2 linked regions of the Homo sapiens genome follow. The protein of the gene in region 1 interacts with the protein of each later gene in a pairwise test. Each region holds a gene or a part of one and is shown in the gene's direction. Other genes may lie near its edges. The genes, in order: SULT4A1 and MAPK8IP3.

What was found.
Region 2: the proteins of SULT4A1 (region 1) and MAPK8IP3 interact in binary tests that used the Homo sapiens proteins (3 or more experiments, as listed by UniProt).

What each region holds. Positions count from the first base shown.
Region 1 is NC_000022.11:43,827,876-43,844,383, reverse strand, and holds part of SULT4A1 (sulfotransferase 4A1), read left to right. Parts: intron 1-2,451; coding exon 2,452-2,582; intron 2,583-4,358; coding exon 4,359-4,439; intron 4,440-5,390; coding exon 5,391-5,517; intron 5,518-8,348; coding exon of another isoform or gene 8,349-8,356; exon of another isoform or gene 8,357-9,288; intron 9,289-10,649; coding exon 10,650-10,744; intron 10,745-15,185; coding exon 15,186-15,324; intron 15,325-16,508. UniProt on the Homo sapiens protein: Atypical sulfotransferase family member with very low affinity for 3'-phospho-5'-adenylyl sulfate (PAPS) and very low catalytic activity towards L-triiodothyronine, thyroxine, estrone, p-nitrophenol, 2-naphthylamine, and 2-beta-naphthol.
Region 2 is NC_000016.10:1,764,742-1,772,301, forward strand, and holds the end of MAPK8IP3 (C-Jun-amino-terminal kinase-interacting protein 3), read left to right. Parts: intron 1-271; coding exon 272-437; intron 438-1,218; coding exon 1,219-1,401; intron 1,402-1,478; coding exon 1,479-1,668; intron 1,669-1,787; coding exon 1,788-1,907; intron 1,908-1,981; coding exon 1,982-2,062; intron 2,063-2,162; coding exon 2,163-2,230; intron 2,231-2,407; coding exon 2,408-2,556; intron 2,557-2,822; coding exon 2,823-2,994; intron 2,995-3,063; coding exon 3,064-3,177; intron 3,178-3,327; coding exon 3,328-3,366; intron 3,367-3,457; coding exon 3,458-3,637; intron 3,638-3,735; coding exon 3,736-3,885; intron 3,886-3,961; coding exon 3,962-4,083; 3' UTR 4,084-5,610; downstream 5,611-7,560. Other genes in the region: NME3 (nucleoside diphosphate kinase 3), read right to left, coding at 5,908-6,025, 6,148-6,252, 6,329-6,430, 6,528-6,669, 6,748-6,793; MRPS34 (small ribosomal subunit protein mS34), read right to left, coding at 7,480-7,560.

The sequences.
Region 1 (16,508 bases):
GAGTGCCAGGGTGTCCTCAGCACACACGAGCTCCCCCGCAGGCCTCTCCCTGCCTTTAATGGCACGGCACGCTGGGCTTGCCCAGGCTCTTCCCGTTGGCCACATCTCCCCACAGTCTTAGGAGAGGAGGTTATGCTGACCAGGCCACTGGCGGGCGGAGGTGATTTGTCTCTTTTTAATTGAATTATATCTTACATGTGCGTATCAGTTGGAGAAAAGCCCTCAAACCGCTTTTCCTCTGCTCTCACACAAGAGTCAACACAGAGGCCTCCTGTGGCGGACAGGCTGGGGATTTCTCCCCGCCAGCAAGCAGGCACTCAGTCCTGCAGCAGCACCAGCTGGATGTCCCCCAGTCCAGTTCAATTCCAGCACTGCCCACCTGGAGACAGCACGAGATCCCACGGGGCGAGGTCTCAGTCCCACAAGACTGCCCCCAGTTCTGATGCCAACCACAAGCCCCAGGTTGTTTTGCCTGTGTGTCTCACCCACTGGCTATAAATTGGGGTTCGCACACCCTCCCTGCCCACGTTTGACTAATTTGCCAGAGCGGCTCACAGAACTCAGGGCAACACTGACATTTCCTGGTTTATTATAAAGGATGTTACAAAGGCTTCTGATGAATACCAGAGGAAGAGACGTCTGTGGAGGATGGAGGAGGGTACGGAGCTTCCATGCCCTCTCTGGGCAAGCCACCCTCCAGGAACCCCCATGTGTTCAGCTCTTTGGAAGCTCCTCAAAGCCTGTCCTCTTGGGCCTTTTATGGAACCCTCATTGGCTAGGCATGGTGGAAGCATGTAGAAATGGGACTGGACAAAAGGGCTGTGAGCCCAACACTGTCAGTCGGAGTGGGGAGCCCAGGAAGGCCTGCCTGTGCGACATTCCTTCCTCCCCTTCTGAACTGGGGGTCTCATGACCCACACAGTCAGAAAAGGCAGGTCAGAGAATTTTTCTTTTTGTTTTTTGAGATAGATTCTCACTCTGTTGCCCAGGCTGGAGTGCAGTGGTGCAGTCACAGCTCACTGCAGCCTCTACCTCCTGGGTTCAAGCGATCCTCTCACCTAAGCCTCTTGAGTAGCTGGCACTACAGATGTATGCCACTATGCCCAGCTAATGTTTTTATTTTTTATTTTTTGTAGGGACAATGTCTTGCTATATTGCGCAGGCTGGTCTCGAACTTCTGGCCTCAAGCAGTCCTCCCGGTTTGGCCTCCCATAGTGCTGGGATTATAGGCATGAGTAACTGTGCCCAGCCCAGAGAGTTTCTTCATAGCCAGCTCCAAGACAGAAAGGCGGGGGAAGATTCAAGTATATTTTCAGTTTGTATGGCCTGCCTTGGGGAGAAAAAGGAACAGGTGAAAGGGGTGGGGGCAGGAGAAGGTCAGAGAGAGAGAGAGAGAGAGAGAGAGAGATGCTGTTTACTGAGACCTGCTTCTAAGGCCTGGAGTGGTCCAATATTATGACAAAAGACTGTAATAAGGGCTGGGGGGATAATGAGCCAGGAGCCATAGATGGAAACCAGCACATATCATAATGTAGCATGCTTCCATGTAATTCCCACCAGACCCAGTTAATAGCTCTAGACCCCGGAATCGCCTTTGTGTCTTCTCTGAATCAGTAACCAACCCAAAATATAAACACTGTTCTCACTTCTGTCACTATAGTTGAGTTTTGCCCATCCTTGAACCTCATGCCAATGGGACATACAGGATTGTACCCTGGAGCGCCTTGGGGTGGGAGGACTCCGTCACATCCTGTCTGTGGGGCTTGGCCATGCTGTGTCTGCAGTTCCGTCACATCCTATCTGTGGGGCTTGGCCGTGCTATGTCTGCAGTTCATTCTTTTTTGTTGCTGTGTAGTACACCATGGTGACTGTCACAACTTACTCATTCTATTGCTGATGGGTATTTGTGTTTCCAAGTGACTTTATGAATGATGTGGCCAAGACTGTTCTAGAACCTGCGTACTGGTGGACAAGCACTGGCTTCCCTTGGGTGTCTCCCCAGGATAGTTCCTGGATCATGGGCTATGTGTATATAGCTTCAGTAGATACTGGGCAGACGTCATTTCCTCATCTTGGCTAGCGGGTCATTCCCCCGACCCATCATTCCTGCGTAAACTGCCAAGTTCAGCCTCAGGTTGGGCCGAGTCACCCACCTGTTACAGCCCCTGAGCCACTTCCATAACAGGGGCTGGGTTCTGTTCTGTTCTGTTCTCCTAACAGCCCTGTGAAGCATCCTGGCCCCTCTGAGAATCAGAGCCGACTGGCCCATGACCCAGCACGGGGGATTCAGGCTGAGACCGTGCGGGGCGCGCTCCTCTTCCCAGACTCAGTCGCCCTGGGCCCCACCTGGGGCTCTTGAGCCCCTTCTTGGGCAGCAGGTGTTGACCCGAGCACAGGGCCGGGCGCGTGGGCCTCCTCTGAGCACCCCGCGCTGGGGCTTCTCCCCTCCAGGCACCAGCTTGCTGCAGGAGGTGGTCTACTTGGTGAGCCAGGGCGCTGACCCCGATGAGATCGGCTTGATGAACATCGACGAGCAGCTCCCGGTCCTGGAGTACCCACAGCCGGGCCTGGACATCATCAAGGTACCCAGGGCCAGCAGCACCTGTCCCAGCACCTCTTTAGGGTATTTCTACCGTTACACCCTGATGATTGACAGTTGCTCCTGGGGGCTCTGTGGATTAGGGGAGAGCAGATAGCCCCAGATAGCCAGGGGAGAAGCTGGCAGGCCTGAGCTGGCAGTGACCTGGAACCCGATGAGGGCGTGGGTGACACATCAGCGTCAGGGAGTCTGTGAAGTGGAAAGGAAGTCAATGCCTGGGGGGCACAGGGCTGAGGGGCCATTTGTGGGGAGCAGGCCCTGGGCCTCCCCCTCGCTTTCCCCTGGGGGCCCTCCTCTGAGGGAGCTGGGTAGGATGTGTTTGCATCAAATATTTGGTATCAAGAATGAATAAATGTTACCCCAGAGCCCTGCTCCCCGCACCCCTCAGACACACCCACAGGCACCCCCACCCCGTCCGCTGCACCTCTTTAGTTCCAGCCTCACACCTGAATGGGCCAGAACTGCAGCCTCCACCACACCTGTCCTCCTCCCTCTGGAGCAGCATTCCAAAACCCAGCTCTGAGAGTGCCATCCCACCCTGTGTCATGCTCTGAGAGTGCCATCCCTCCCCATGGCACAAGACCCCTGTGGCCCTCCAGGGCCCCTGTCTGCACCCCAGCCTCTCGGGCCTGAACGGCCATTTTGCTCTCCTTGTCCGTGCGGAACCATCTGGGAGTCGTTCCGTACTGCCGTGCCGAGGGCCACCGCGTTCAAGGCACTGCTCTTGGCATTGGGGGCAGCAGTGACTGACAGCATCAGGCCCGGCCTTTCAGCCCAGGAAGCCATAGTAGCTAGCCAGCGATCAGCGCTGGGAGGGGAGCAGATCAGGGGGGGACCAGCAGTCTCCTCTGGGGATGTCTGAGGCAGGTCCTGAAAGAGGAGAGGAGCAGAGGGACCCGTGAGCAAAGACCCCACGGCACGAGGGGCCTGGCCTTCCAGAGCAGTAGGCAAGCCTGGGGGTTGCAGGCAACGGTTCCGGGCTCTTTGGCTTCATGAGGGCTGGGCCCATTCCTAGGGCAGCTGGGAAGACGGGCTCTGAGCAGAGAGCACGGTGCTGGCTGCTTTACAGGACAACCCTGGCTGCTGATGGGAAGGCCCGAGGGGCAGGTGGAAGCAGTGAGCGCATCAGGCCAGGTTGCTGTGCGGTCCAGCGCCAGCCTGGCAGCACCCACTGGGGCTGGTGCCTCCTGCTGCCTCTGCTGCCCTCCGACGCCACTCCAAGCCGGGGCAGTAGCTCCCAGGCCCCCTGAGCAGATCCTGTGGCTGTGGCTATGATGGGTGGACTCCCCAGGCCAAAGTCAAGGACCCTTGTCTCTACCGCCAGGGTCCAGCCGGGGTGTGCTCATGTCTCCAATCTTTGTCTCAGGTGACAAGGGAGGCTGTCCTGGCTGGGTCCGAGACTCTCTCCAGGACAGGAGACCAGGGCATGACAGCCTTGCCTCCTCTTGCTCTGACCCCTCCCTACTCCTGGCCTCACCTTTCCCTCTGACCCCTACCGTTCTCCCCTGGCCCCCACCCCTTCCCTCGTCCTCTGGTCCCCCTGCTCCTGGCCTTACCCCTCCCTCTGGCCTCACCCCTCCCTCTTACCTGACGCTCTCCTGACCCCTCCGCTACCCTAGACCCGCCGTTCCCTCTGATAACTCCACTTCCCCTGAACCCCACCCCTTCCTTCCTCCTCTGGCCCCCTTCCCCTTGGCCCCACTCCTCCCCTTGGTCTCACCCTTTCCTCTGACCTGCCTCTCCCTCTGACTCCACGCAGGAACTGACCTCTCCCCGCCTCATCAAGAGCCACCTGCCCTACCGCTTTCTGCCCTCTGACCTCCACAATGGAGACTCCAAGGTAAGCTGGCACCTCCTCTGCCTCCCGAGATGAGTCCCCACCAAGAGGAGCCCAAGGTCCCTGTGCAATACACATGCAGGTCCCTGGCACTTACCTGGCCTTGGGGGCTGTCTTCCCAAGGAGCCCACACGTGAAGATCCCTTCTGAGGTGGTCTTGGGTCATGCGTCTCTAGCATTTTACCCAAGTTTTTAACGACGGGTTGGTTTTTACCTCACAGTCAAACATGGCTGTGGCCAGCCTAATCCAAAGCAGGCCAGCAGGCGTGTACCTGCTTTGGGCCGAATTCTCTTTGTTTTTCAATTGCATCAAATGCCAAGGCCTGTGGGGTTTTTTTGTTTGTTTGTTTTTTTGTTTTTGAGACGGAGTCTTAGTCTGTCGCCCAGGCTGGAGTGCAGTGGCATGGCTCACTGCAACCTCTGCCTCCCTGGTTCAAGCGATTCTCCTGCCTCAGCCTCCTGAGTAGCTGGGACTACAGGCATGTGCCACCACACCCGGCTAATTTTTCTATTTTTGGTAGAGACAGGGTTTCACCATGTTGGTCAGGCTGGTCTTGAACTACTGACCTCAGGTGATCTACCCACCTCGGCCTCCCAAAGTGCTGGGATTACAGATGCGAGCCACCGCACCCGGCCAGAGGCCTGTGTTCTTACCACCAGGATCAGGGTTGTAAGTTTTTTGTCTTCTGCAGATTTTAAAGTAGTTCTAGAGGACAGAAATAAAATGCTCAAGTAATTTTCCTGGCCAGCTCTACTGCATGGACAGGGCACCTTTCTGCTGAAACAGCGAAGCAGCAGCACCCAGCAGCCGTGCACATGGGCCCCAGCTGGACGCTGGAAGCAGGTGTTGGTTTGTGAGGTGCACCAGCAGGTTCAGGGAGGCTGGCCTGTGTCGGGGCAGCCCTGCCTGGGAGGGAAGGAGACACGGACTCATCCTGCTCCTGTCACCCACAGGTCATCTATATGGCTCGCAACCCCAAGGATCTGGTGGTGTCTTATTATCAGTTCCACCGCTCTCTGCGGACCATGAGCTACCGAGGCACCTTTCAAGAATTCTGCCGGAGGTTTATGAATGATAAGCGTGAGTGTTGCAGCCTGGCGGCATGTTAGAACCGGAGCCGTCTGTTGTCGTGGACGGCCTGGCAGGTGCTGGGTGCTTCCCCGACACGGTCTCCAGTTCTGACAGTGACCATGTAGGTCAGGCCCGCGGTCACTTTACAGATGAAGACACTGAGGCCGAGGGTCGTGAACGTGGCCGAGATCCTAGAGCTGGTGTGTGTCAGAGCAGGTCCATCTGAACCCAGAGCCCTTCTCTTCTACCACACTGTCGGGGTGTCTGAGAAGTTCCCCAGTTAAAACATCCATCCTTCCTACCTGGGTTTCAAACAGGGAGAGAATGAAAACAGTAAAAATGGAGGCCCAGGTATCACTACTGTTAGTGATAGGGCCTGGAGTGGAGACTGGAGCTAAGTGTGACAGGCATGGGCCTTTGGCTGAACCTCAGGCACAGGCAAGCTACTGGGGCAGGGCACACTTGTGCCCGCTGGGAGGAGGACAGCCGGGCTGAACCTCAGGCACAGGCAAGCCTCCGGGGCAGGGCACACTTGTGCCCGCAGGGAGGAGGACAGCCGGGCCGAGAGTGCCATGTGCTGTTCTCTGGCTTCCATTCCAGCCCCTGAGGAGGAGCGAGGCTGGGTTCCACCCTGCCCTGCTCTCAAGGAAGGCGGGACCAGGCCTCTTGTCTTGGTCCCACTCGCTCCCAGTCCTTACTCTCTTGCCCCGCTGGGCCACCTTTCCCTTGGGAGTGGTGGCAGAGCTCCTCAGTGCAGTTCTGTTCCTGCCTTCCTGAGGGGGCTCCCCATGGCCAGCCATGGCTTTGGGAGGTCCTGGGACAGAAAGTGGGCAGTGTAGGGTGTGCAGGCAGAGGAGCTTTGAAATGTGTCATAATAGCTGCACTTTAATTAAATCTACACTGAGACTCTTCCCTACCCAAGGCTGAAAATACACTTTCTGTTTTATTTCCCAACGGAAGTGATGCTGAGCCGCATTGTTCAGTGTGGCTTATCGGGGGCTCTGCAGGGGGCTTATGTGACAGGATGAGGATGAATCATGTAGCAGAGATCCTGGAACGTAATGCCCTCGAGTTTAAGTGGAACTTAGGGCAGTGGACCTAGAGCTGCTGCCAGGCCTGGTTGAAGGGGACCTCTTGGCGGGGCGGTGCAGGGCGCCACAGGCTGACTCTGTTGCTTGCAGTTTGAAAACCCACGAGGGCCTCAAAGCCCTGGGATGATTCTGTTTCCTGCCCTTGAGCCTCTGCTTCCACTGTGCCTGCTGAGAAGTGGCCCTGCCTGCAAGGGGTAGGAGGCCCCAGACCGCACCCTGAAGCCCCCTGAGCCTGCTCTGGGCCTTCTGTCCAGCCCCTCTTCCCATGGCCTCTTGGCCCTGGCACCTGCTCTTGTGGTCCACCAGGCATTTGGAGCAACCCACTCATGGACTTCTGAAGCTGTTTCCTAGGGTCCAGCATGGACTCTGCTCTCTGCAGAGCATGGGGACAACACCCACATTCAGACCAGCACGTGGAAGAGGCTACAAACATCTTGCTCAGGCCAGAGCAGTTAACAGTTCTCTTAATATAGGCCTCTCCATGTCACCACAGTCACAGACCCATCCTCCACTGAGTGCAAGGTCCCACACACGTGCCTTGGTCCCAGCAAACCCTGTAGACAGGCCCACTCAGCACCCCTGTGCTCCGTCCTTCATTGTCACTCAGTGAGCACGCACATACTGAGGACCGCTGGACCCCCTCCCTGATGTCCTGAAGACGGTGGAAACTAATATGCACGGGAACCCTGAAAGCACACCATGTCCAGACAGGCCAGGATCAGAGGCCACAGCACAGGGCAACAGCAGGAGGGTCCTGCATAAACAACCACGCGTGAGCCTGGTGACCAGCTCTGCGAGGCTGGAGGGCAAAGGGCCCTGGAGGCAGGTGACACCTGCAGTGTGAGGATGCCCCGTGACAGGCTTCCTGTGACACCTGCAGTGTGCGGACGCTGTGTAGACAGGCTCCCTGTGGCACCTGCAGTGTCAGGACGCTGTGTAGGCTGGGTCCCTGTGGCACCTGCAGTGTGAGGACGCTGTGTAGACTGGGTCCCTGTGGCACCTGCAGTGTGAGGACGCTGTGTAGACAGGGTCCCTGTGGCACCTGCAGTGTGAGGATGCTGTGTAGACTGGGTCCCTGTGGAGCCTTCAGTTTGATGTGTAGACAGGCTCCCTGTGGCACCTGCAGTTGGAGGACGCTGTGTAGACAGGATCCCTGTGGCACCTGCAGTGTGAGGACGCTGTGTAGACAGGGTCCCTGTGGCACCTGCAGTTGGAGGACGCTGTGTAGACAGGATCCCTGTGGCACCTGCAGTGTGAGGACGCTGTGTAGGCAGGCTCCCTGTGGCACCTGCAGTTGGAGGACGCTGTGTAGACAGGATCCCTGTGGCACCTGCAGTGTGAGGACGCTGTGTAGACAGGGTCCCTGTGGCACCTGCAGTGTGAGGACGCTGTGTAGACAGGGTCCCTGTGGCACCTGCAGTTGGAGGACGCTGTGTAGACAGGGTCCCTGTGGCACCTGCAGTGTGAGGACGCTGTGTAGACAGGGTCCCTGTGGCACCTGCAGTTGGAGGACGCTGTGTAGACAGGCTCCCTGTGGCACCTGCAGTTGGAGGACGCTGTGTGGACAGGGTCCCTGTGGCACCTGCAGTCGGAGGACGCTGTGTAGACAGGGTCCCTGTGGCACCTGCAGTGTGAGGACGCTGTGTAGACAGGCTCCCTGTGGCACCCGCAGTGTGGCATGCAGCCTCTGTGACCGTGTCTTCTCTGGGGTGGACAGTGAGGTTTTGTTATTCTTCCTTCATATTCCAGATGGATGATTCCCTTCCCTTTCACAGAGCAGCGTGGAGCCCAGGGAAAAGCGTGGAGGGGCCCGGCGTCCTCGCCTCCTCTCAGGCATTCCGGTGGGAAGGCTCTCCACCCAGCAACCTACAGCTCATTCCCGTCCCCCCTCCTGCTGTGGGGACTCCGTGCACTTGCTCCTCACATCAGCGCAGGACCACACGTGCAGTCCTTCATGCCTTGCTCCTTCCAGAGTCCTCACACTATTTCCCCCTGCAACTCCATGTCACCGGGATGTCTGTTTTTGACATCTTGCTACATGCTTCCTTGGAATGAAGTGGGGTTTTTCTTTACCTTCCGTGTTCACAGGGCCATTTGACTCTTCCTTCTGCCCCAGGGACTCATCTGCTTGGACTTAGCTACCGATGATGGGCTGCAGTCGGGCCACTTGGGCTTCCCTGTCTGGGCCCCCATGATTATTGACCTGTTGGTGACTTGGGCAAGTCTCTTCCCTTCTCTGGGACTCAGCTTTATTCTGCAGAAATTGGAGGTTTTGGTGGGATGTGGGTGCAGCTCCTCCGTGGGAATCCTGCCGGGTGGCAGGGCCCAGCAGAGGAGTCTCTACAGCCAGCGCTCCTCATCCAGCTGGGCTGCTTCCTGCTGCTTAGCACCGCCAGCCCCCGACTGCCCAGTGATCCTTAACTGACGCCTTGCTCTCTGTCGTATGGAGGTCCCCGTGGAAGAAACCGTCACAGTGGTGGGCACGGCATGTGGCAGGCAGGGGAGGATCCATAGCTTTTATAAAGAACACTGCAAAGCAGGCTGGAGACTCCATGAGTTGGTCCCTGCCTGTGTGCCCCACCCCACACCAAGGGCTCTGAGGCAGCGCAGGCCACGCAGGAAGCTCAGGGCTGCGGTGGGGGCGCGGGAAGCTCAGGGCTGCGGTGTGGCTGCGGGAAGCTCAGGGCAGCGGTGGGGGCGCGGGAAGCTCAGGGCCGCGGTGGGGGCGCGGGAAGCACAGGGACGCGGTGGGGGCGCGGGAAGCACAGGGCCGCGGTGTGGGTGCGGGAAGCTCAGGGCAGCGGTGGGGGCGCGGGAAGCTCAGGGCCGCGGTGGGGGCGCGGGAAGCTCAGGGCCGCGGTGGGGGCGCGGGAAGCACAGGGACGCGGTGGGGGCGCGGGAAGCACAGGGACGCGGTGGGGGCGCGGGAAGCTCAGGGCCGCGGTGTGGCTGCGGGAAGCTCAGGGCAGCGGTGGGGGCGCGGGAAGCTCAGGGCCGCGGTGGGGGCGCGGGAAGCACAGGGACGCGGTGGGGGCGCGGGAAGCACAGGGACGCGGTGTGGGTGCGGGAAGCTCAGGGCAGCGGTGGGGGCGCGGGAAGCTCAGGGCCGCGGTGGGGGCGCGGGAAGCTCAGGGCCGCGGTGGGGGCGCGGGAAGCACAGGGACGCGGTGGGGGCGCGGGAAGCACAGGGACGCGGTGGGGGCGCGGGAAGCTCAGGGCCGCGGTGTGGCTGCGGGAAGCTCAGGGCAGCGGTGGGGGCGCGGGAAGCTCAGGGCCGCGGTGGGGGCGTGGGAAGCTCAGGGCCGCGGTGGGGGCGCGGGAAGCACAGGGACGCGGTGGGGGCGCGGGAAGCACAGGGCCGCGGTGTGGCTGCGGGAAGCTCAGGGCAGCGGTGGGGGCGCGGGAAGCTCAGGGCCGCGGTGGGGGCGCGGGAAGCTCAGGGCCGCGGTGGGGGCGCGGGAAGCACAGGGACGCGGTGGGGGCGCGGGAAGCACAGGGCCGCGGTGTGGGTGCGGGAGTGCCGGCCTCTTGGAGGTCAGGACAGGACTCCCTGCCCGTCTTCAGCTTTCAGGTCCCATGGAGAGTTCCTCGATTTACTGAGGCTACTGCCTGTCGCCCTCTTGCCCAGCAGGGCCCCGTGTTCTGGATCTGTCCTACAGCTTCCTATACCCCACCCTGTCCCCACTAGCAACCCTAGCGGCCCCTGTCCCAGTTCTTCTGGGCTTTGTTCCAGGGCTTCCTGGTGACCACTTGTTAAGCGGATAAAGTAACGGGCACTGTTGCGGTCCACTGCCAGGTACCACAGGGACCACCTTCTCAGAGGCTGTCACCCCCATGGTCAGGCCTTCAAGGCGTGCCGAAGGCGGGAGGGCTGGGATGGCTCAAGACGTGAGTGCCTCGGGGGCCTTTGCCAGACTTGTCCGCAGGGATCACGATGTCCTCATCACGGCTGCTGGGTGGCAGGAGGGCAGCCCTGTGGGGTGGGGATGGCCCCATGTGTGCGCTTCTCCTGCCCAGCCGTGTGGCTCACCCTGTCCCCTGTCTCCGCAGTGGGCTACGGCTCCTGGTTTGAGCACGTGCAGGAGTTCTGGGAGCACCGCATGGACTCGAACGTGCTTTTTCTCAAGTATGAAGACATGCATCGGGTGAGTGCTGCCGGAGCAGCTGTCCTCCGGGTGCCCTGGCCCTCGGCCTGGCAGCTCCTGACGCAGGAGCCCTTTACAGTGGGCGTGTGGGAGGAGGAGGAGGGGTCTGAGGAGGGACAGAGGAGGGGGCGGGACAGTCTGTGGGCTGGAAGGGGGCTTGGGGGTGTGGGGAGCAGCCTGTCAAAGCCTGAGGTGTGGCAGGGCAGCCATGCCGTGCGAGGCTGAGGGACCCAGGAAGGCGGGTGTGGGGAGGGGACTGGGGCTTGGCTTATCAGGGGGCCTTTGGAGTGCTTTACAGTGGTGGTTGATGGGACGTTGAGGAGAGGCCACTGTCTGCAGTGAGACACGAGGCAGCTGGTAGCTTGGGGAGCCTGGGTCACCACAGAAGAGACTGAGCATTTTCTAGGTGTTGGGAGAAAGCAGGAGCTGGGGGAGGGGTTGAAAAGAACTAATGGGACAAGGTCTTAGTCCAGGCAGAGGCAGGGCTTGGGGCTGGAGCCTAGGCAGAGGGGCTTCTGGTGGCAGGGGCAGGACAGGCAGGAGACACCTGTGGCCTGGCCCATGGGAAAGAGGAGAGACGATGGGGTGCAGATGTGGACTGTGAGGTTGCTCCTGTGGGGCAGAGGCCTGAGTGCCAGCTGGAAACCATGTCGATGTAGGGGACAGACAAGGCCAGCCTGTGGGGCTGCTAGTGTCAGTGGCTGACAGACAAGCAGGTTTAGGTTGAGTAGCAGTGGGTGGGAGCTGGGATGGGGAGGAGGTCTGCTGGGAGACAGACAGGAGAGCTGGGTGCTGGGGAGGGTGAGCCAGTGCTGGAGTTGGAGGTCAGAAAGCCCAGGGGTAGGAAGGCCAGCCTTGTACTTTCCCCACACCTGCAGGAAGACGCCAGACCTGGCTGTGAACAGAGCCACACGAGGTCCCCTATGGCGCTGGGGTGGGGGCTGTGCCTTGTGGCCCTGGGGTGGTGGGGTGTTTGTTGTGGCCCTGGGGCGGGTGGTGTGTGCACTGTGATCCTGGGGTGGGGGTGTGTGCGTTGTAGCCCCGGGGTGGGGGTGTGTGCACTGTGATCCTGGGGTGTGGGGGTGTGCCTTGCGTTTCCTGCAGTTGTTCTTGGGTTGCTTTGTGCTCACACACTGGGGCCTGTGGTCAGCACGGGCCAGGTCGGCCTTCGCAGGAGCGTGGCCTTTCGGGGCTTGCTCGATGTGCAGGAAGGACCCCGTCTGCAGGTCTGCTGCCGGCTGGCGCATGCTGTCGGTTCCCCACATGGGTCCTCACCATGGCTCTGTGTTATGGTGAGGAAAGAGCAAGGTCATGTGGCGGTCTAAGGTCACACGCGCCATGGAGCCGACTGCTGGGTGAGCCTGTCTGACTCTACATGGGCCTCCACCTGTCTGCCTCTTGTCCACACAACTTGACACAGAGCCACATTTAGGGTCCCTGCTCACGCCCAGAGGACGGTGTGGTAGAGATGAAGGTGTAGCCCAAGCAGGTTGGAACCCTGGTCCTGCCGCTGACCTCTGTGAAGCCGTCGGCCGTGGTTTCCTGTGGTGCTGGGGAACAACGTGGGCTCTGGATGCTGGCTGCTCAGGCCAAAGTCCTGACCACCCCAAGCCTCTGTAAAGTGGGGAGGTGACAGCACCCCCGTCACTGTGTGGCTGGGAGGACTGTGTGAGCATCACCTACGTGCAGGCCTGGCACGGGCCCGCCTGGTGTGTACCTTTTTGTGGTGGTGTCATGCACAGTGAGGTGTACTTGGCACACACGTGGGGCTTGACAGCCTTTTACCTGTCACATCTGGGCAGCCACCTTCCAGATCCAGAACATTCCAGCTTCTTGCAGTTGATACCCCTGCTTCCCAGAGGCCACCGCGGTTTCATCTCCCTCACCGGAGCTTGGCGTTGCCTCTTTGGAACCTGTCAGGTGTGGAACTCGCATGGGTTTTGCTGTCTGGCTTCTGCGCAGATGGCGAGGCTCCTCCACCTGCGTGGCGCGGAGCTCTGTTCTTTCCTGTGCTGTGGTCGGTGCTCCGTTGCAGCACGAATGTGCCACCGCTTCATCCATCCAGTGTTGCCGGGCGTGGAGGCCATTTTCACTTTGGGGTGGTCATGAATAAAGCCTCCGTGGACGTTCTGGAGTCTTGGTGGACGTCAGCACTTGTGCTTATCGGGCCCATACCCAGGAGTGGAATTTCTGGGGTCCTGGGTGTGCATTTGTCAGCTGGTCACTATTTTGCCACCAATGACATAGCATTGAACATGCACTGCCCAGGGCCACTGAGGCCCCAACATGAGAAGGTGAATAGGGAAAGCGCCCAGCTGGCCAGCTGCCCACACATCTCGGGGGCAGCTGCCGGGTCAGCAGTTTCTTCCTGGAGCTTCAGTTTCCTCAGCAATGATGGACTGAAGTTTTAAGGTCCAAACACACACTTTACTCCAAGCCCTTAAAGGGAAGTTCATCCTTCTCTGCCTTCCAGGCTCCCCAGTGAAAGTGGTCAGACCTGTTGCTTTCAGTCCGTCAGGGTCAAGGCCACCAGCCCTGCCTGGAACTTTAAGAGCTGCCGGGGTCAGTGCTGGGACTTCATTTTCTATCAAAGCCGGTCTGTGACTCAATGGCATCCCTGGGACAGTCAGCGTTTCGCCTTCTAATTGGCATGGGTTTATTCTTTTTTTAGGAACCTCAGTAATGGCTTGTTTTAATGGAGGTCAAGTCACATTTTTAGGAATTAATATTGTTTACATCTTACTCCAGAAAACTAGCCCCGAGTGAGCATGGTTGTCTCCAGGACTGTGGTGTGGGTCCATGTGTTCTCACCCTGGGGTTGAGAGGGAATGCTTCCTGCCAGAGCGCTCACTGCCTGCGCTCCACTGCACCGCAATTACAGTGGCCCTTTCCCACGAGCCGGGCACTGTGCCAGGCACCCCGGGTATATTCCCACTTCATCCTCAGTCATCTTGCAGGGTGTTCTCACCAGTCACGGGGTGCCCTGACTGCAACCGTGTGGCCAGCTAGTACCTGCCCATGTGGAGGCACGACCCCAACACGCTGGCTCCGTGCCGTGGTGTGCGGCCTCTTGCTGCGGCCCTGTCGCTAGTTCCAGATGGGGAATGTGTGGCTCAGAGAGGTGAAGTGGGCCGTTCCTGCCAGCTGACCTGGGCGTTCTGCCTGATCCCTGCTGGGTTTCATAACCAGCAAGTGTCCTGTGACATGTTGCTGGATGTAGCCTGGCAGAAACGCCCCTTCCTCTGAGATGGACGTCACGCCGCAGTGAGCTGCCCCACGAGGATTCTGCTGAACGCTCCAGCAGGCTGACTTTAAGCCAGCTGTGTCCTTCTTGCGGCATCTCTTCTGAGAGCCAGGTTTCTTCACTCTTTCTCCATTGCTACCCTTTTTCTTTGAAATGGAGTTCTTGGTGGCAGGGCAAGGGAAAGGGAGCTCTGTATTCCTTGGCTCATTCTCTAATAACTGTTCCTCTGACTCTTGAGTCAAGCCCTGCGCCCGGGATGCACCACACCCCTGCCTGTGGAAGGCAGTGCGAGGCCAGAATCAGACCTGCAACCGCTGCTGCAGGAGTCAGCGCACTGTGGGGACCCAGGGAGGAGCTGGCGCCCACACCAGCTGACTCCCACACCAGCGGTCAGAGAACATTGTCTTTTAAGGTTTCCGAAGTGCTGCAATAAAGAAATTAAATCATCTTTTCACTGTAGGACTTTTTAGAGGCTTTAATGCGGGAATTTGCTTTACAAACCTTCCAGAGAGGAAACAGCCTCCAGCATCTTCCTAATGGGACCAAGGCACCTCTAGGTGACAGCTCAGGGCTGTGATTGAGAAGACGAGGAGCCTCATCTCTTGGGGAGAAAGTGGCAGGGGTGGGGGGCTGGGGAATGGCCCCCTCAAGACGGTTAGCCACATCAGTGACATTCCGCTGTCAGGCGTGGTAAAATAATGGGGCAGGGTATGGCAGGCATGACGGAATCTTGCCTGTGATGAAGCGGGCTCCCTGCCCAGTGCAGGGCCATCTGGAGACCAGAGGGGCCTCCCTGCGCTCCCAAGGGCCAGCCCAGACGCCAGCTGACAGGCAGCAGGAAGGGAAAGAGGAGCCCATTAGGTCTTGCTCCTCACAAGAACCATGTTCTGAAATATGTTTTTTACTTCTTGCTCCTGTTAAAACTTAACCACACCTCTATTAAGACCTCATGTCTGCAACCCAATTCCCTGGAGGACCAGGGTTTGAATTCAAGATCTCCACGTGAGAGCTGAGCACACTTGGGCGATTTCTTAACCTCTTAGTGTTATTTCTGGACAAGGCTGATGTCAGCCTTGTGAGCATTAAGTAAGGAAGGCCGTGTGTAAAAAGTCCTCAGCGTGTGCCCAGCCTGGGGTCGTGTCCAGTAAAAGGCCCCGCCTCTGATGGGCTGCTCTGCTCTCTGCACTTGTCTTCCAGGACCTGGTGACGATGGTGGAGCAGCTGGCCAGATTCCTGGGGGTGTCCTGTGACAAGGCCCAGCTGGAAGCCCTGACGGAGCACTGCCACCAGCTGGTGGACCAGTGCTGCAACGCTGAGGCCCTGCCCGTGGGCCGGGGTACGTGCCCCACCCTGCCTCCCGCCCAGGCACTCCCCACCCCAGCCAGGCTGCTTTCTCTGCCTGCTTAGGGAGCCGAGTCCGGTCCCTGTTGCCCTCCCTGCTCTCCTTTTACAGCAGTCTGTAGCTGGCCCATGGCCTGTGCTCTGTTAGCTGGTGCCCATGGATGGCACAGTGCTCATGGAGTGACGGAGTACCCTGCCCGCTGGTGTTTGCATTGCCTCCAAGCAAACAGTGTTTTGACTTGAAAAAGTGCATTTCAGGCTTTGTGGGCGGGATGTTTCTCAGCAGGGAGTCTACTCAGATGGCCTGAAATCAAACGCCCCACAGAGCAGATCCAGGGACTGGGTTTGGTGCTATGACATGTCAAAGCGCAAAGCATGCTGATGGGTTTCTCAGTCTCTAACTGACTTGTGGGAGAGTTAAATGAAGTGGGCGGGAAGTTAGGAGACACCGTTTTTCTTCCTTCACTGAGTGGACGCTGACTGAGCATCTTCTGGGTGCAGGCAGCACAGGTGAGGCCTAGCCCCACTTCGGGGTGGTGAACTTAAGCAGACAGTACCAAGCTAAGCCGCTGCACAGAGGGAGGCCAGTTCCTGCTCTTGGCGGCAAGTGACAGTGGGCATGAGGCAGCTGGAGATGGGGACAGTGTTCCTGACAGGAATCCTCCCCAGATCCACCTGGGTTGCTCCCCCTGTCCTTAAGGGTGTGTGGCATTTGGCTTTGATGATGGAGAGCCCAGGCTCTAAAACCCCTGAATCCCAGGGTGCTGGCCTTGGCCATAGGAGGCCCCCTGTTGGTAAGTATGAACCTGATGGACACTTGGTGTGTTGGGCACTTCCTGGGTTGAGAATGTTTGCAGGGAGGGCCCAGAAACGTGGATGGCTCTGTTCAGCAGCAGCCCCACAAGATGGAGTGGGAGATGCCTGGGGCGGATGAGAGACGCGCTGGGCTCCAGCTCAGCTCTGCTGCCCTCTGGGAACGCAACATAGGTCAGGCCTTCAGCTTCTGCGGCTTTTTGTTCTTCTCTGAAAAGGGGCTGATCACGGCTAAGGGCGGTTTGAAGGTCAAGTGCAAAGTGCCGTCTCTTATAAAGGCAGAGCAGTGGACTCCTCAGGAGGAAGTGAACTGAACCACAGTCCCTCTCGACTTCTTTCCTGGCTGCATTTTCATAAATATTTGTT
Region 2 (7,560 bases), on another chromosome or scaffold:
TTGCCTCCCAGTGGTGGGAGGCTTAGTTTTATGCCCAGCTTGGGCCTCTTGGAGCTCAGGGGCCTCTTCTGTGGAGGCGAAACCGTGTCTGTGAGTGCTTTAGAGTGCAGTCCTGAGTCCGCATTGTTCTGGTCCTGGGGGAGGACAGCCATGTCCCCTCAAGCTGTAGTCAAGGCTGGATCCTGACAGATTCTGGGAGCCCCATGGCCCTGTGCTGCCACCGGGTAGCCTCAAGCTCGGGCTCTGACCTTGATCCCGTGCCCTGAAACAGGCCAAGGAGCTCCCTGAAATGGACGCCACCTCCAGCCGGGTGTGGATCCTGACCAGCACCCTGACCACCAGCAAGGTGGTGATCATCGACGCCAACCAGCCGGGCACGGTGGTGGACCAGTTCACCGTCTGCAACGCGCACGTGCTGTGCATCTCCAGCATCCCCGGTGAGCAGCTGGAGTGGGCGTTTCCACTCGGGCGCCACTCCCTTTTACTAGCAAGCTAAGTAAAAGCCCTGCCACACAGCAGCTGCCTTCTCGGGGTGTCCTGTGGACACGGGAATGTGGCAGTGGACGGTGGGAGGGGCAGCACCCAGTCAAGTGAGGCCCTGGGCCCTGTTTCTGGGAGGAAGCTCGCGGCAGCCTCGGCCTCTTCTCCCTACCTACTCAGGACCCCACGCTTACCTGGTTAGAGGGTGACGGGTGGGCACGGCCTGCAGCTTGAAGCATCACTCGGAGACCACAGGAAAACATTTCCTCATGCTGAATGTGAAACCTCCAGTTGGGCCGAAGGGGCTATGGGGGTGTGGGTGAGGAGCTTCGTGTCACCCCTGTGGGCAGTAGCCTTGGTGATGTTCTGGGCCAGCCCCAACACTGGGAGGACGAAGGGGTGCCGAGGGCTCTGCCAGGTCTCTGGTGTGAAACCACAGGGCCGTCTGGGGTCCTGAGGGTCTGCCACAGGATCACAGGTTGTTTGCTCCCAGAACCAGAGTCTTACTACTCAGCTCCCCTTGGCCCAGGGGCCTACCCAACAGAGCAGGCTTGCTGGAGTCCCAGACCTCCAGGCAGAGGGTCGTGGGTGGGCTGTGGGTGGAGCATGTGTGGAAGCTGGGTCTGCTGGGAAAGTGGAAGGCCAGCCCCGGCTTCCTCTGCCCCTGTGTAAGTGCTGGGCACGCCCTTGCAGTAGTGGGTTCCCCCGCACAGGCTGACGGGCCGTCCCTCTCCCCAGCGGCCAGCGACAGCGACTACCCTCCCGGGGAGATGTTCCTGGACAGCGACGTGAACCCAGAGGACCCGGGCGCAGATGGCGTGCTGGCCGGTATCACCCTGGTGGGCTGTGCCACCCGCTGCAACGTGCCGCGGAGCAACTGCTCCTCCCGAGGGGACACCCCAGTGCTAGACAAGGGGCAGGGTGAGTCCTGGGCGAGTTTCCCCCATCCCCTCATTCCCACGTTTCTGCCCAGCCCAAGCTCACCTCTCCTAACACAGGGGAGGTGGCCACCATCGCCAACGGGAAGGTCAACCCGTCCCAGTCCACAGAGGAGGCCACAGAGGCCACGGAGGTGCCAGACCCTGGGCCCAGCGAGCCAGAGACAGCCACATTGCGGCCCGGGCCTCTCACAGAGCACGTCTTCACTGACCCAGCCCCGACCCCGTCCTCTGGCCCCCAGCCTGGCAGGTGAGCTCTTGGGCTGGGGCAGGAGCAGAGGGAAGGCTTGCAGAGGTGGGAAGGGCCTCGGGGTCTTGGGGCAGGTGCGTGCTCCGTGGCCCCCCCTGGAGCCACCGTTCTTCCTGCAGCGAGAACGGGCCAGAGCCTGACAGCAGCAGCACACGGCCAGAGCCAGAGCCCAGCGGGGACCCCACGGGAGCAGGCAGCAGTGCTGCACCCACCATGTGGCTGGGAGCCCAGAACGGCTGGTAGGAAGGGCCCGGGGCAAGGTGGAGGGAGGGTCCTGGGTGAGCCCCTCGCCCATCGCCGCTTCCTTCCCTAGGCTCTATGTGCACTCGGCTGTGGCCAACTGGAAGAAGTGCCTGCACTCCATCAAGCTGAAGGATTCTGTGCTGAGCCTGGTGTGGGTGACCCCAGACCGAGGGCCGGGCGGCGCGGGGGAACGGGGCGGAGGGGGCTGGCACAGCCTGGCCCAAACCAGGCTCACCGCATTCCTGTTTCAGGCATGTCAAAGGCCGTGTGCTGGTGGCTCTGGCGGACGGGACCCTGGCCATCTTCCACCGTGGTGAAGGTGGGGCCTGGCAGCACGGGGTGTGTGGGTGGCAGCTGATGGCCCTGGCATTGTTTAGCCAAGGGGCTCCCGGGGTTCCAGGCCTCTCCTTAGTCTGGCAGTGGGTGTCTCAACCCGATGCCCTGAGCAGAGGTGGGGCCTGGCCAGGCCTGAGCAGGTGTCCGGGGCTCCCTCCAGATGGCCAGTGGGATCTGAGCAACTATCACCTAATGGACCTGGGCCACCCGCACCACTCCATCCGCTGCATGGCTGTTGTGTACGACCGCGTGTGGTGTGGCTACAAGAACAAGGTGCACGTCATCCAGCCCAAGACCATGCAGATAGAGGCGAGTGCCGGCCAGGGCCCCGGGGAGGGGAAGAGGCTCCTGCTGGCCAGCAGCTCTCCCGCATCTTCCATACGGAAGTCCACGAGGCCCTACGTGGGTCCCATCTCCCCTGTACCACCTATGACTCAGGCTCGAACAGGCGCAAAGCAGGCGCTGGCTGGGAGGTCTGAGGGGACTGCAGGTGGCCCTGGAGCTGTGGCAGGTTTGGGGCTCCCCACTTCCTCTCCTCTCCCCAGCCCTGTTGATGGGCAGCCATGACTCCACAGAAGTCATTTGACGCCCACCCGCGGCGGGAGAGCCAGGTGCGGCAGCTGGCGTGGATCGGCGATGGCGTATGGGTGTCCATCCGCCTGGACTCCACCCTGAGGCTCTACCATGCACACACGCACCAGCATCTACAGGACGTGGACATTGAGCCCTACGTCAGCAAGATGCTAGGTGAGGGGCCACGCCAGATGGGGTGGTGGGGTGCTCAAGGCCAGCCACCCTGACCGCTCTCCCCCACAGGCACTGGCAAGCTGGGTTTCTCCTTCGTACGCATCACGGCCCTGCTTGTCGCGGGCAGCCGGCTCTGGGTGGGCACCGGCAACGGAGTGGTCATCTCCATCCCCCTGACAGAGAGTGAGTGGCCTGCACACCTGCAGGGGCAGTGGTGCTGCCAGAGGTGTACGTGGGTTCACGGGGTGGCTCTGCAGGGCCACCTTGGAGGGTGCCTTGCTGCCCCTACGCTGACCGCTCTCCTCTTCTCCCATGCTCCTCCCATGTCCCCAGCTGTGGTCCTGCACCGAGGCCAGCTCCTGGGGCTCCGAGGTAAGCCCAGCCACCTCGTGTCCCCTCACGGGAGCCTCTCCCACTCTCCACCTGTATGCGGGCTCAGCGCCTCTGGGTTCTCTCCCTGCAGCCAATAAGACATCCCCCACCTCTGGGGAGGGCGCCCGTCCCGGGGGCATCATCCACGTGTATGGCGATGACAGCAGTGACAGGGCGGCCAGCAGCTTCATCCCCTACTGCTCCATGGCCCAGGCCCAGCTATGCTTCCATGGGCACCGCGATGCCGTGAAGTTCTTTGTCTCGGTGCCAGGTGAGGCTGGGCCCCTCCTGCCATCCACATCCCCTGCATGCCAGTGGCCGCCGCCTCCCCCAGGAGGCCGCTGTCCTGAATCGCTTCTGCCATCCCAGGGAACGTGCTGGCCACCCTGAATGGGAGTGTGCTGGACAGCCCAGCCGAGGGCCCTGGGCCAGCTGCCCCTGCCTCGGAGGTCGAGGGCCAGAAGCTGCGGAACGTGCTGGTGCTGAGCGGCGGGGAGGGCTACATCGACTTCCGCATTGGTGAGCGGGGCCCAGGGACAGGGCTGAGGTTGGGCGCGGGGGGAGCCTGGCCGTCACTCTGCTGCTTTGCCCGCAGGAGACGGAGAGGACGACGAGACGGAGGAGGGCGCAGGGGACATGAGCCAGGTGAAGCCCGTGCTGTCCAAGGCAGAGCGCAGTCACATCATCGTGTGGCAGGTGTCCTACACCCCCGAGTGAAGCTGCTGCCCTGCCTGGCCCGACCTGTACATAGGACCCCCGACCACCTGACCCCCGCCCGGCCCGCGGGGTAGCCAGCCAGGCGCCGCCGCCCCTCTTCTAACCTCTCAACCTGCAGCTTTCACCTGAGTCTGGCCCCTCCAGCGGGCAGGGAGTGCGGGGATGCGGATCAGCTGGGAGGAGGAGGGGAGGGGAACTTCCACCCGAGGGGAAGATGCTCTCGGGACAGTTTCCCGGGCAGCTCCTGGCCAGCTTCCAGCCCAGAGTCCTCAAGTCCAGGGCACCTTGGGCCCAGCGCAGGCAGAATCCGAGGTGGTCCTGGCTCTACCCTGGGCCTCCTACTCCCCAGCACCCCTGGAGGAGGCAGGGGCTCCCCGCCGCCGAGGCTGCCTGCCCTGGGCCCACCTCTGCATGCTGCTCATGGGGCCACCCTGCCTCCTGGGCCCTCACTCTGCCTAGGGGAGCTGGGCCAGGCACTAGCCTTTGCCCAGGGAGGTGGGCCTCAGGCTGCCCAGGTGCCTGCACCCCAGCCGGCCTTCTCTGGGGCCTCCCCGTCGTCAAGCCTCTATCCTGTCTGTCCCCACCCCAGCTGTCCCCTGCCCAGGGAGCTGGCATAAAAGCACGAGGCCCGGCTCCCTGGGGCAGCTGCTTGAGAACAGAGACTGCTACCCCATCCTGCCCATGCAGGCAGGCTCTTGCCAGCCCCGTTCTGACCCGTGTCCCCCCAGGCTCTGCCTGGGCAGAAGACTCACCTTGGAGGAGTGGGCCCTGGAGTCCTGTCCCTCCCAGAAGCCCCCAGGGTGGGATTTCTCAGGCTGCCAGGGCAGGCCCAGGCCTCAGGAAGAAGGGGAGGCCCCTGGCCTCTCCGGGATCAGTCCTAGGACACAGGCTCAGCCTCAGGTTGATGGGGGATGATGTGCTCCCGGGGCCTGCCTCCTGCACGGGGCTCCACGGAGCCCAGCTCCCAGACACGCTACTAAGTGCCTAGGGTTGCCCGCTGTGGCCTGCTTCCAGGGAGCAACAGAGAGGCCACCAAGCAGAGGCCCGTGGGGCTGAGGATGGAGCCGCCCCCAGCCGACTCCAAGCCCGCAGAGGGCAGACGCCACCCTGGACTGCTCTCCCTGCCCAGCTGGGCCTCTCTGGCCTATTCCTACCTTCCAGGCCCACTGCACTCCTGTCTGGGAGGCCCTTATGAGGGCAGCCCAGCCCCCGCACCCACCCCCAACCAGAGAAGCACAGATCTTGGGGAGCTGCCCCACAAGCCCCGCTGGCCACCGAGGGCTGCAGCCGCTGCGCTGCCGGCTTCTCCCCACCACCCTGCCACCTCCACTGTGATGTATGTCCGCTCCCTCGTCTGTTCCCCCAGGATCTCGAAGTGACTCCGGGCTGAGCAGTGGGGCGGCTGGGGGAGGGGTGACGATTCTCCTCAGGCTTTGGCCCTGCAAGCAAACCCACATATCTGCTCTGTATGTAATAAATGTCTTAACGTCGTAGCTGCCTGTTCCTGGGCCCAAATCGAAACGAAAACGAGGACTTTATTATAAAAAAACGTTGGACCACGTTGGGCTGGGCACCAGGACAGTGTCCTGGCACGTTTCCAGGCGAGCCGCGCAGGCTCCTGGAGCAGCTCCTCGGGCAGGAAACCCTGTACGCCAGGGATTGGAGAGGCCTGCGCCACCCTCCATGCAACGTCCAGACAGGTGGATGTTCAGCAGCCCGTCCAAAGGGATGCTCCAAGCGCTGTGGGGTGGGGCCAGAAGCCCGCCCACCTGGGCCCTGGAGGAGGCTGGAGTGTGAGAGCCTCTGTGACGCGCATCTGCCGGGCTACTCATACAGCCAGTGCCCAGCGCTGTCCTCCCAGCAGAGGAGCTCGTCTGCGCGGAACCAGAGAGCGATCTCGCGGCGGGCACTCTCCACCGAGTCGCTGCCGTGAATCAGGTTCCTGCGCGGAAGAGGCGCGTGTGAGCGTGGGAAAGAGACCTCCGGCACGGGTACCACGCAGGCTGAACAGGGGGAGGCCGGACGGGGCTGGGACCGTCCCCGGGGCGGGCCTTACTTGCCAACCTCGATGCAGAAATCCCCGCGGATGGTGCCGGGCGGGGCGTCGGCCGGGTTCGTGGCTCCGATGAGCGCCCGCGAGGTGCGCACCACGTCCAGCCCCTGCCATACCTGTGCGGAGGAACGGGCGCGGTATCACGCGGGGGTGGGGGTCCCGGAGCCGCCCGCCCGCTTCCCGGATACTCACCATGGCCACCACCGGCCCGGAGGCCATATACTTGACAAGGCGGCCGTAGAACGGGCGTTCACGCAGCTCGGCGTAGTGCTCACGCAGCAGCTCCTCGGAGGCCTGCGGAAGGGTCAGGCCGCCTGCGCCCGCACCCGGCACCTAGGCGTCCCCAGGTCCCCGCTCCCCTTCCCCCCACACCGCGCCCCCGCTCGCTCACCGCGCCCCCACCTGCACCAGCTTCAGCGCCACCAACTTGAAGCCCTTCCTCTCGAAGCGCCGCACAATCTCGCCCACCAGCCGCCGCTGCACGCCGTCCGGCTTCACGGCCAGGAAGGTGCGTTCGTGTGCGCCGGTGCAGGCTGCGGGGCAGGCGGGGACGGGCCGTCAGGCCGGCCCAGCACCGGCCACCCGCCCCCGGCCCGCGCCGCGCGGCTCACCCGCGGGGAAGAGGTTAGCGAAGATGGTCAGCACCAGGCAGATCATGATGGCGGTGCGGGAGCGGGATCCGCGGGGCGGGGCGGTGGCGCCCGGGGCGGGGCCTGCGCTTAAAGAGGCCTGGTCGGGGCGCTGCGGCCTCCGCGGGGAGGCTGCTTCACTTGCACCCCGGAACCCGGCAGCCGTGGGGGGCCGGAGGGCAGCTGCGGAGGCCAAGTCTCCTCCAGCAGCTCGGACACTAACTGTATCCCCCACAACCCGCCCAGGTGGTTCCACCCACGCGGCGCCCTGCTCCGCACCGCCCGAACCCCGCCCCCCCCGCGCCCCCCCGGCCAGGGCCACGACCACAGCGTCAGCCCTTCTCTCCCCGGTCCTAAAGACAGAGCGCAAAGACACCACGACCCTGGGTACTTCTTTTCTCTTTATTCCCTTTCATAGCTTCTGCCGGGATCCAGGCAGAGAGAGCACTAATGGGGGAAAGGGAGCGAGCGCTTCCCGCTTTCCCCAGCGTGGGCCCTCGGAGTTGGGTGTGGGGGCAGCAGGGCCAGAGGAAAGGCACAGGTGGCGATTTGCCCCAGCCCTCCCCCCTAAGATGCAGACCCTCAGAACACGTCGCGGAAGGTGAGCTCCCTGCTCCGAGAGGCAGACTCGGGTGTAACGCAAAGACGGTTTCTTTCATCAATAAGGTCCCCACTGCCTCACAGCCCCTAAGGCCACCCGCTGGTTCTGGCATTCTAGACGGGGGTGCCCTTGGCCCTTCCTTTGTCTTCCTGTTTTGCAGGGTAATCCCAGGGTTCCATGCGTATCCTCTGCAC